Regions from separate parts of the Homo sapiens genome. Here region 2 is linked to region 1. The links come from fine-mapping of genetic effects on gene expression. A gene starts in region 1. The other region holds a variant in brackets. All regions are shown on one strand. Distances are from middle to middle. Region 1 holds the start of NUP50-DT (NUP50 divergent transcript). Region 2 has its middle 58 kb from the start of NUP50-DT.

Region 1 (4,383 bases):
ACAAGTTTTATTAGAAGCAAAGGCTATAAACTATCATTTTCCCTCCAAAACGTAAAAGTTGTAGCATGGAAGAAGAATAACTTGGATTACAAACCAGATTTTTACAAATATTTTACCAAATCCCTATTTTATTTCAAAGCATGACACTTCAGACAATACATTTTACTTTTATGCTAGAAGTGGGGGGGAGAAAAAACCCTCTGTAAAATATTCAGAACAAGGCCTGGCACCTGGAGTCTTATGTCTAGCTACTGTTATGAAGAACTTAAGGGAGGCGGAAGGATCTCTTGAAGCCAGGAGTTGGAAACCAACTTGGTCTCTACGAAAATAAAGATGGACATAGATTAGATGAATAGAAATAAAAAATTAGCCGAGCGTAGTGGCGCACGCCTGTGGTCCCAGCTACTTGGAAAGCTGAGGCAGGAGAATCACTTGAGCCCAGGAGCTTCAGGCTACACAGTGAGCTACCACTACACTGAGGCCTGGTGACAAAGCAAGACCCAGTCTCAATCAAACAATCAATAAAAGGGAATTTAAAAAACGTTTGCGTTTGTGGGTAAAAAACCAAATTAGACATGATTTCTAGGTATGAAGCAACGTGGTGGGAGACTGAAAGTCTAGGTAAACTGGAAAAAAACATTATTTGTGCCTGATATAGTTATGTGGTCTCTGGCATCTGGTGTAGCTCTGCCCTTGGAAAGCTCAACTTGTCAACATCACCTTAAAACGAAAACACAGATTTGGCTACACTTAATAGTGAAGTGCCTTGTTGGAGGAAAACAACAAGGGGGCCAAGTAAGGAGACAGAAATACCTAATCTCCAAGCTGGTTCTTAATGGAACCGAGCAAATGGGTGATGAATAACCCGGGAACGCAGTAAGACAGGCCAGAGAGGTAATGCGCCCAAGAGAAGAGAGACGAGGGGCGGCCAGGGGGAGAGGAAGCTCGAGAGGAATCGCTAGGAAGGAAACGGAGAAGACCACGCCAGGACAGCCCTGCCAGCCCCCTACCTCCGGCGGGGCCGCAGGGGAGAGTCTCACTCGAGTCGGACGCCGCAGCCCGGTGGGGCCCGGGCCCCGCTTCAAAAACAGCCGGGGCTGCGTCGCCGCTGTCATCCCACCCCACCCTCCACCCGTCGCTCCCCCACCGCGCGCCCCGCCCGGCCCGTGCGCCCGACCCAGGCTCCCTCCCTAGAGTCCCGACCTCTAGCCCTGTACCCCACTTCCCAGGGTCCCGTCCTCCAGCCCCTTAAGCCCCTCCCCAGGGTCTGGTCCCCCGGCCCCGCACCCCTCCCCAGGGGCCCGTCCCCCGGCGCTGAACCCGCACCTCCCTCCCCAGGGTCCAGTCCCCAGCCCTGCACTCGCACTCCCCTCCCAGGCCCGAGCCCGCTCCCGCCCTCCCGGCCCTGGGCTCTCAGCACCAGGCTCCCGCCCTCAGCCTCTTCTCCTCCCGCGCCCGCCGCCGCTCCTCACCTCCTCGGCGGCCGCCGCTGCACTCGCTGGGTCTTGGTTGCGGCGAAACCCGGGGCGCAGCGGCGCAGGGGTCTGGAGCCCGCAGGGGTCGCCGGGCTGAGCGCGCTCGGCCGCTTCCGGTGCTGCGCTGCGGAACTCAGAGGACTTAGTGCTCGGCAAGCCCAGAGACTCAAACACCATATCCCTGGGGGGGCTCCTCACGCTGTGTTCGGCAGGGAGGCGAGAGCGCCGGTTCAGCCAGAGACAGCTGGGGGAACCGCGCCGAACACGCTCCGGGCGGCCATTTTGTAACTCGAATCTACCCCCAAAACCAATTCGAAAAAAAGGGAGGAAAGAAACGCCCGCGTTCAGCTACTGCGCAAGCGCGCCGGCGCTTCCGGCAGTAGCACCTCCTTCCGCCGGCCGGGCCCCTTACGCGGCGCATGCGCCCAGCTCCCTGGAAACCGGCGCGGGGCTGAGAATGCCGGTCTCGCGCAAGCGCGCACGCGCCGACCTTGATCTCGTAGCCGGCGCCAGCAGCCGCGCTTTGGGGCGTCGGCTCACGTGGGGCCGGCAACGCGTCTTCCAGGATGTTCGCGCGCTAGTCGCCGCTGAGGGGCCGGCGATGCGCGAGGAGTTCCGGCGAGGAAGGTCGGTCAGTGGACATGGCCGAGGCCCGCGGTGTCCGCGTGTGGGAGCTGCAGGGCTGAGGAGAGGCCGCCCGCAACCCTCGGGAATCGTGTGAGGTGCCACTGGGGTCGCTTCACATCAGGAGGCCCCGTCTCGGGGGACGCGCGCAGGTGACCCTGCTGGTCGTACCTGGCCGGGGTGGCCCGGAGGGGCTGGGTCTCGGCGCCAGGAGGGGCCGTGTGGGCCGCCTGTTAAAGGACCCCTCGTTCGCTGACATTTGATTTTGCATTGGGTGCCTTCTCTTCTGTTTTTTTCAGCCAGTGAGATCCGTCCTGGGCACTCAGCTGTAGAGCAGGGGAACGAGTCCTGCGCTTTTTGCGCTGAGGTCTCCTGGCCCGTAGGCCAGGCAGCCTCTGAGCTCCTTTCTCACCAGCAGCTTGCGATCCCTCATCCCTGGCCCTGTCACTCCCAGCTGTTTCCAGTGCCGCCCTTTTTTTTTTTTTTTTTTTGAGATGGAGAGTTTAACTTGTTCGCCCAGGCTGGAGTGAAGTGGCACGATCTTGGCCTACTGCAACCTCTGCCTCCCGGATTCAAGCGATTCTCCTGCCTCAGCCTCCCGAGTAGTTGGGATTACAGTCGTGCGCCACCACGCCCGGCTAATGTTTATATTTTTAGTAGAGACGGGTTTTCACCATATTGGTCAGGCTGGTCTCGAACTCGTGACCTCAGGTGATTCCCTCCCCCCGCCCCACCACCTCAGCCTCCCAAAGTGCTGGGATTACAGGCCTGAGCCACCGTTCCCGGCCTCGAGCGCCTTCTTATAAACTGGATGGTGGTTTTTGTTTTCACCTTCAAAGTCGAATCTCCCTAGTCCGTTTATTACCAGAAAGAGGTCTCCACTCAGACCCAGCGAGAGGCTTCTTGGATGTCGCGTAGGAAAGAATTCGGGGCGAGTCCACGGACTAAAGTGAAAGCAAGTGTATTAGAGAAGTGAGAAAGCAAAAGAATGGCAGAGCAGGGCATTCCTGAAAGCGGGAGGAGGAAGGCGCCCGCCTTAGGTACAGTGCTTGTTCAAATCTAAGGTAACACAGCCAAAGAAATCTTGGGGGACATGGGCTCTACCACGAGGGCCCACGACCAAGGTTTCATGCGCGTCCGTGTGAAGAGACCACCAAACAGGATTTGTGTGAGCAACATGGCTGTTTATTTCACCTGGGTGCAGGCGGGCTGAGTCCAAAAAGACAGTCAGCGAAGGGAGATAGGGGTGGGGCCGTTTTATAGGATTTGGGAAGGTAATGGAAAATTACAGTCAAAGGGGGTTGTTCTCTGGTGGGCAGGGGTGGGGGGTCACAAGGTGCTCAGTGGGGGAGCTTCTGAGCCAGGAGAAGGAAATTCACAGGGTTAATCACTTAGTTAAGGTTGGGCAGGAACAAATCACGATGGTGGAATGTCATCAGTTAAGGTGGGGCAGGGCCTTTTCACTTCTTTTGTGATTCTTCAGTTACTTCAGGCCATCTGGGCGTATACGTACAAGTCACAGGGGATGCGATGGCTTGGCTTGGGCTCAGAGGCCTGACACAAGGATTGTTCATCTTTGTTTACTGACTTTGGCAAAGATCTATATTATCTTTAAAGCGAAACCTAAATGAAGAATGCTTTTGATCTTAAGATATTGTTAGGTTTTGAAGGGAAGACGAGAGTTAAAGAATGACACACAGGTCGGGCGCTGTGGCTCACGCCTGTAATCCCAGCACTTTGGGAGGCCGAGGCGGGTGCATCACCTGAGGTCAGGAGTGGGAGACCAGCCCGACCAACATGGTGAAACCTCATCTCTACTAAAAATACAAAAATTAGCGGGGCGTGGTGGCACATGCCTGTAATCTCAGCTACTTGGGAGGCTGAAGCAGGAGAATCACTTGAACCCGCGAGGCAGAGGTTGCAGCGAGCCAAAATCACGCCATTGCACTCCAGGCTGGGTAATACAGTGAGACTGCGTCTCAAAAAAAAAAAAAAAAAAAAAAAAAAACAAAGGGCAGCTCAACAGCAACACAGGTATATGGCAAAAACCTACAGAGATGGGGGATCAGCTTAATGCCAGAGCCCACTGCTGCTTACAGGCTGGGGTACTTATAGGGCAGGAGGGGAATGGGCAGTATGGCTTGCCATGTGAATATACTTACCAGTATATCTATCCATAAAACGTTCTATGATCAGGCAGTTTGGCCCTTGTTCCCTCAGAAAGTGACAGTGATGTTCCTTGCACCTTTGCTGAGCAAGGTTTGATAGGGATGTTCCTTCAATT
Region 2 (4,383 bases), 57 kb after region 1:
TCAGACGATGATAAGCATCACAAAGGTAATAAAATATGATCAGCTCTCGGTTCTTTCATTCACCTGACGAGTGTTTATTGAGCTTGGACTGTTTCTTGGGCACTGCCTTGGACCCTGGTGAAATGGTGGGGACAAGACAGAACAGGTGCCCGTGCTCAGGTGCCCATGCTCATGCAGATTTGCTTCTGGTTGGGAGTGATGCAACGACGCACAAGTAGAAACAACCACTGTGGAGGAAGCTGCTATGTGGGAAGGAATGGAGGGAGTGGTGTGATGGAGCAAGCAGGGATCGGCAGATGGAGGGGGTTATGTGGTGTGGACGGGTGGAGTGGGCAGATAGAGTGCTTCTTTTTAAGAAAAATTTTAAATATATAATAAAAAAATAGACATTGGGTCTTGCTATGTTGACCAGGCTGGTCTCAAACTCCTGTCCTAAAGCAATCCTCCCATCTTGGCCTCTCAAAGCACTAGGATTACAGGCATGAGCCACCGCACCCAGCCGAGCTTCGAGTGCTTCTAACAGCAGGTGCAAAGGCCCTGGGGTGGGAAAGGGCTTGGCAGCTTTGGTGAAAAGGAGGCCAGCATGGCTGCAACCTGGTGAGTGAGGGAGAGAGGGGAAGGAGATGTGGGCGCCAGATCATGCAGACCCTCATGCGCTGGTGAAGGGTTTTGATTTTATCCTGAGAGCAGTTGTCCAGGGGGCCCTGGAGAATGTAAGGAAGGAGAACGTCAAGGTATGATGTTTGTCTTTAAAAGATTGCAGGCCGCTGTGCGGGAAACGGGGCGGCTGTCGTGGGTGAGACTGGAAGCTGCCACAGGGTCAGGAGGTCCTAAGAGCAATCCAGGCAAGATATGGTGGTGGCCTGGACCCGGGAGTGGACCGTGGACGTGGTGAGCAGTTGACACATGGGGCAGATATTCTGAATGTTCTTCCTGGTGTTGCTGACATTTCCAGCTCAGCCCCTGCCCTACAGCCATAAGAGCTTGGAGGTGGGACACTTGCCCATGGCATCTGAGTCATCTGGGATGGAACTGGAGAGGAGGACCCCTGAGCCACCTTGGCTGCAGCCCTATGCTCTGAGGAGACAGAGCAGCCTCTCCTGACAGGTGACAGCTGGGTTTCCAGGATGAAGTTGAGGAGCAGTGGCCGGGGATAAACATAGGCTACCTGGGGTTGACACCCACCCCAGTCTTCCCTTCCTTTGCTCCCTACTAGCCTCCAGCATGCTCATGACCATGCAGCCTCCCTGGCTCCATCAGCTCAGGCTGTTACGACAAAAATACCACAGACTGGGTGGCTTCAACAACTGACATTTATTTCTCGCAGTTCTCAAGCCTGGGAAATCCAAGAGCAGGGTGCTGGCAGATTTGGCATCTGGGGAGGGCTCCCTTCCTGGTTTGCAGATGGCCGTCTTCTGGCTGTGTCCTCATGGGGTGGAAAGAGCTGGATAACTCCCTGGAGTCTTTTTTCTAAGGACGCTATTCCACTCATGAGGGTTCCACCCTCGTGGCCTAATCATCTCCCAAAGACCCCACCCCTAATACCATCACATTGAGGATTAGGGCTTCAACAGAGGAATTAGAGGGGGGCACACACATTCAGTCCTTGGCATCCTCTAACCTCACATGGAGCACAGACCCAGGAGCAGAAGGCATGGGCTGCAGGCTCCACATTAACCCCAGCTGCCTTCATGTCTCAGGGGTAAGCTGGAGTACATTCATGGTAGAATGGCCAACATAGTGAATGAATTCAGAAGCCAAAACCTGGCAAGTATCACAGGCTGGTTCATCCATTCGCATTTTTGCTCAGCAAATACTAATTGAACATTCATAGCATGCTGAATGCTGACGGGTGCTGGGGTTGATGGTGAACAGGACCCAGGTCCTGCTGCCCAGCTGTCCAGAGGGCAGTAGAGACCATGGCCAGTCCCTGTGATCAGTGCTCTGATATGGAGGTGGGGGGACCCTGGAGGGGAACCCCACCGAGCTTTGGAGTCAGGGAGGCTTCCGAGGAAGTGGCACTTACTCTGCGTTGGAAGAATGGGAAGAATGGGAAGGAAGGAGGTCTTTCTTCTCCTGTGATCACCCATTCAACACCAGGGCCCTTCAGTTCTCGCTCCCAAATGCCTCTCGTCTCTCTCCTTCCCTCTTAGGGCCCACTGCTACCCCTTGCTTCAGACCCTCATTGTTTCTTGCCCGGGTTACTGCAGCGGTCCTGCCTCCCGCCTCCCAGTCCTTTTGCTTCCTCACCGTCTATGTTATCTCTCAAATAAAATATACAGAACAACATCTGATCACATCCATCCTCTTGGTCCAACCCTTCGCGTAGGATAAGTTCTGCTTGTTTTCCTTCTAGTACTTTACTAGTTCAACTTTTAAATCTACCTACAATTTGTTTTTACTATTTTAAATAACAACTTTATTGAGCGATAATTCACATACCATAACACTCACCCTTTTATACATACAATCCAGTGTATACAGTTTTACAGATACAGTTCCATTTTCGTGTATTCAGGGTTCTATAGTTATCACCCCCATCTGAACGTTTTCCTCAGCCCCCAAAGAAACTTCACGCCCATTGACAGTCACCCCTCCTCCTGCCTCCACTCCAGCCCCAAGCAAACACAAATCTACTTTTCATCTCTTCGGATTTGCCTATTTGGGACATTTTGTATAAATGGTCTTCTGTGACTGGCTCCTTCCACTTAGCATCTTGTGTTCA[T/A]GATTCATCCATGGTGTGGCGTGTATTAGTACCTCATTCCTTTTTATTGCCAAATAACATTCCAACGTGTGGCTAGACCACAACTTGTCTGTCCACTGCTGAGCTGCTGGATGCTGACATTTGGACTCTTGGGCTCTTATGAGTAACGCTCCCGTGACCATCCCTGTTCGGGTGTTCTGGTGCACACATCTCCAGTTCTCCTGGGAGGATAACACTTTCGAACGATTCGTTTTCTTTTCCTCTCCTCAATTCCCTTTGTTTGCTCTTCCTCCTACTCAAGCAACTATGCAGTCTGGCAGCACTGTCGCAAATGGATACCTTGTTTCTCTCACTGCCTCCCATAGGGTGGGGCTTGGTTTCGATTTGTCACTTGATGTTTACTTTGATCACTTGACAACAGTGGTGTCTGCCAGCATCTCTCTTATAGAGTCATTCCTTTTTTTTTTTTTTTTTTTTTTTTGAGACGGAGTCTGGCTCTGTCGCCTAGACTAGAGTACAGTGGCACGATCTAGACTCACTGCAACCTCTGCCCCCCAGGTTCAAGTGATTCTTGTGGCTCAGCCTCCCCTGTAGCTAGGATTACAGGCGTGTGCCACCACACCTGGATAATTTTTATTAGAGATGGGCTTTTTACCATGTTGGCCTGGCTGGTCTCGAACTCCTGACCTCAAGTGATCCACCCACCTCGGCCTCCCAAAGTGCTGAAATTATAGGCGTAAGCCACCATGCCCGGCCAAAGTCATTCTTTTTTCATGTTCTCTGCCATTTTGTGGGTAGGTACTTTGAAATTCTGCAAATATCTCCATTCCTCACCAAATTCTCAGTGCATTCATTTATTTTTTATATCTGTATGGATTCCTGGTTTCCTGTTATATTCAATGGAGTATAATTTTTTGTGACTATAATTTATTTTTATGTTCAGATTGTCCTAGATTTGGCCAGTGGTCACCTTTCCAAAGCAGCTTCTTGGTTTTTGACGCGTTCTTATTATTCTTTGAGCACTCCCTTCCTCTCTAAAGTCCCTCTCCACATGGTCTCTCATCTTGACCCCAAATTCTGGGTTCAAAGAGGACAGAGTGTTCATCAAGCGTGTGTGGTGTGCATGTGTGTGTGTGTGTGTGTGCGCGCGCATGTGCGTGCGTGAGTGCATGTGTGTGTGAGTGCATGCATGCATGAGTGCGTGTGTGTGTTTAACGCGCTGCTGGACCTCTGGCTAAAGCAAGTCACGTGGCTCAGGCCAGTGTCCACATGGGCAGGGCCACAGAGGGACCCAGGTGGCCTGATCCACTGGGGCCACTAGTCCTACATCTCACCATGCCATTGTTGACAGAGGTGTAGACAAAAAGAAAAAATTTTCTCCTATAAAAATACAAGCCCCCCAAAATTTTACAAATGCCAGCTGAAACCCAGCCTCAGCGTTGGAGAGAAAATAGGGAGTTGCAGGGAACTGACAGAGAATGAAAGGCTCCAAGCCAAGGTGGCAGCCCCTGTGTAGCCCCTGCTCATTGTTCTAGGTAGGACGTAGGACCTAGACCCAGTGTTGCCAGATCTTCCGATTTTTTTTTTCAGAGAAACTGAAACTCTTTAGAGTTTTAGATGAAATTCAGATATTAAAGTATGGGCTCAAATGTTTAATCCTATGGGAGGCAACAGAGCCC

The links.
Region 2: its variant is fine-mapped to the expression of NUP50-DT in subcutaneous fat (GTEx, PIP 0.98). The same link has a PIP of 0.9 or more in macrophages and sun-exposed skin.

What each region holds. Positions count from the first base shown.
Region 1 is chr22:45,161,386-45,165,768 of GRCh38, reverse strand. NUP50-DT (NUP50 divergent transcript) reads left to right here and starts at 1,988. Exons shown (of 3, transcript NR_038956.1): 1 at 1,988-2,192. It overlaps NUP50 (nucleoporin 50), which reads right to left and starts at 1,844. Exons shown (of 8, transcript NM_007172.4): 1 at 1,473-1,844. RefSeq lists silencers at 1,073-1,252, 1,283-1,512, 2,283-2,332 and an enhancer at 1,393-1,915.
Region 2 is chr22:45,104,038-45,108,420 of GRCh38, reverse strand. No RefSeq gene overlaps it. Among named protein-coding and RNA genes, the nearest start is that of NUP50-DT, 58 kb to the left of the region's middle. The variant T/A (reference allele first, on the strand shown) is at 2,726.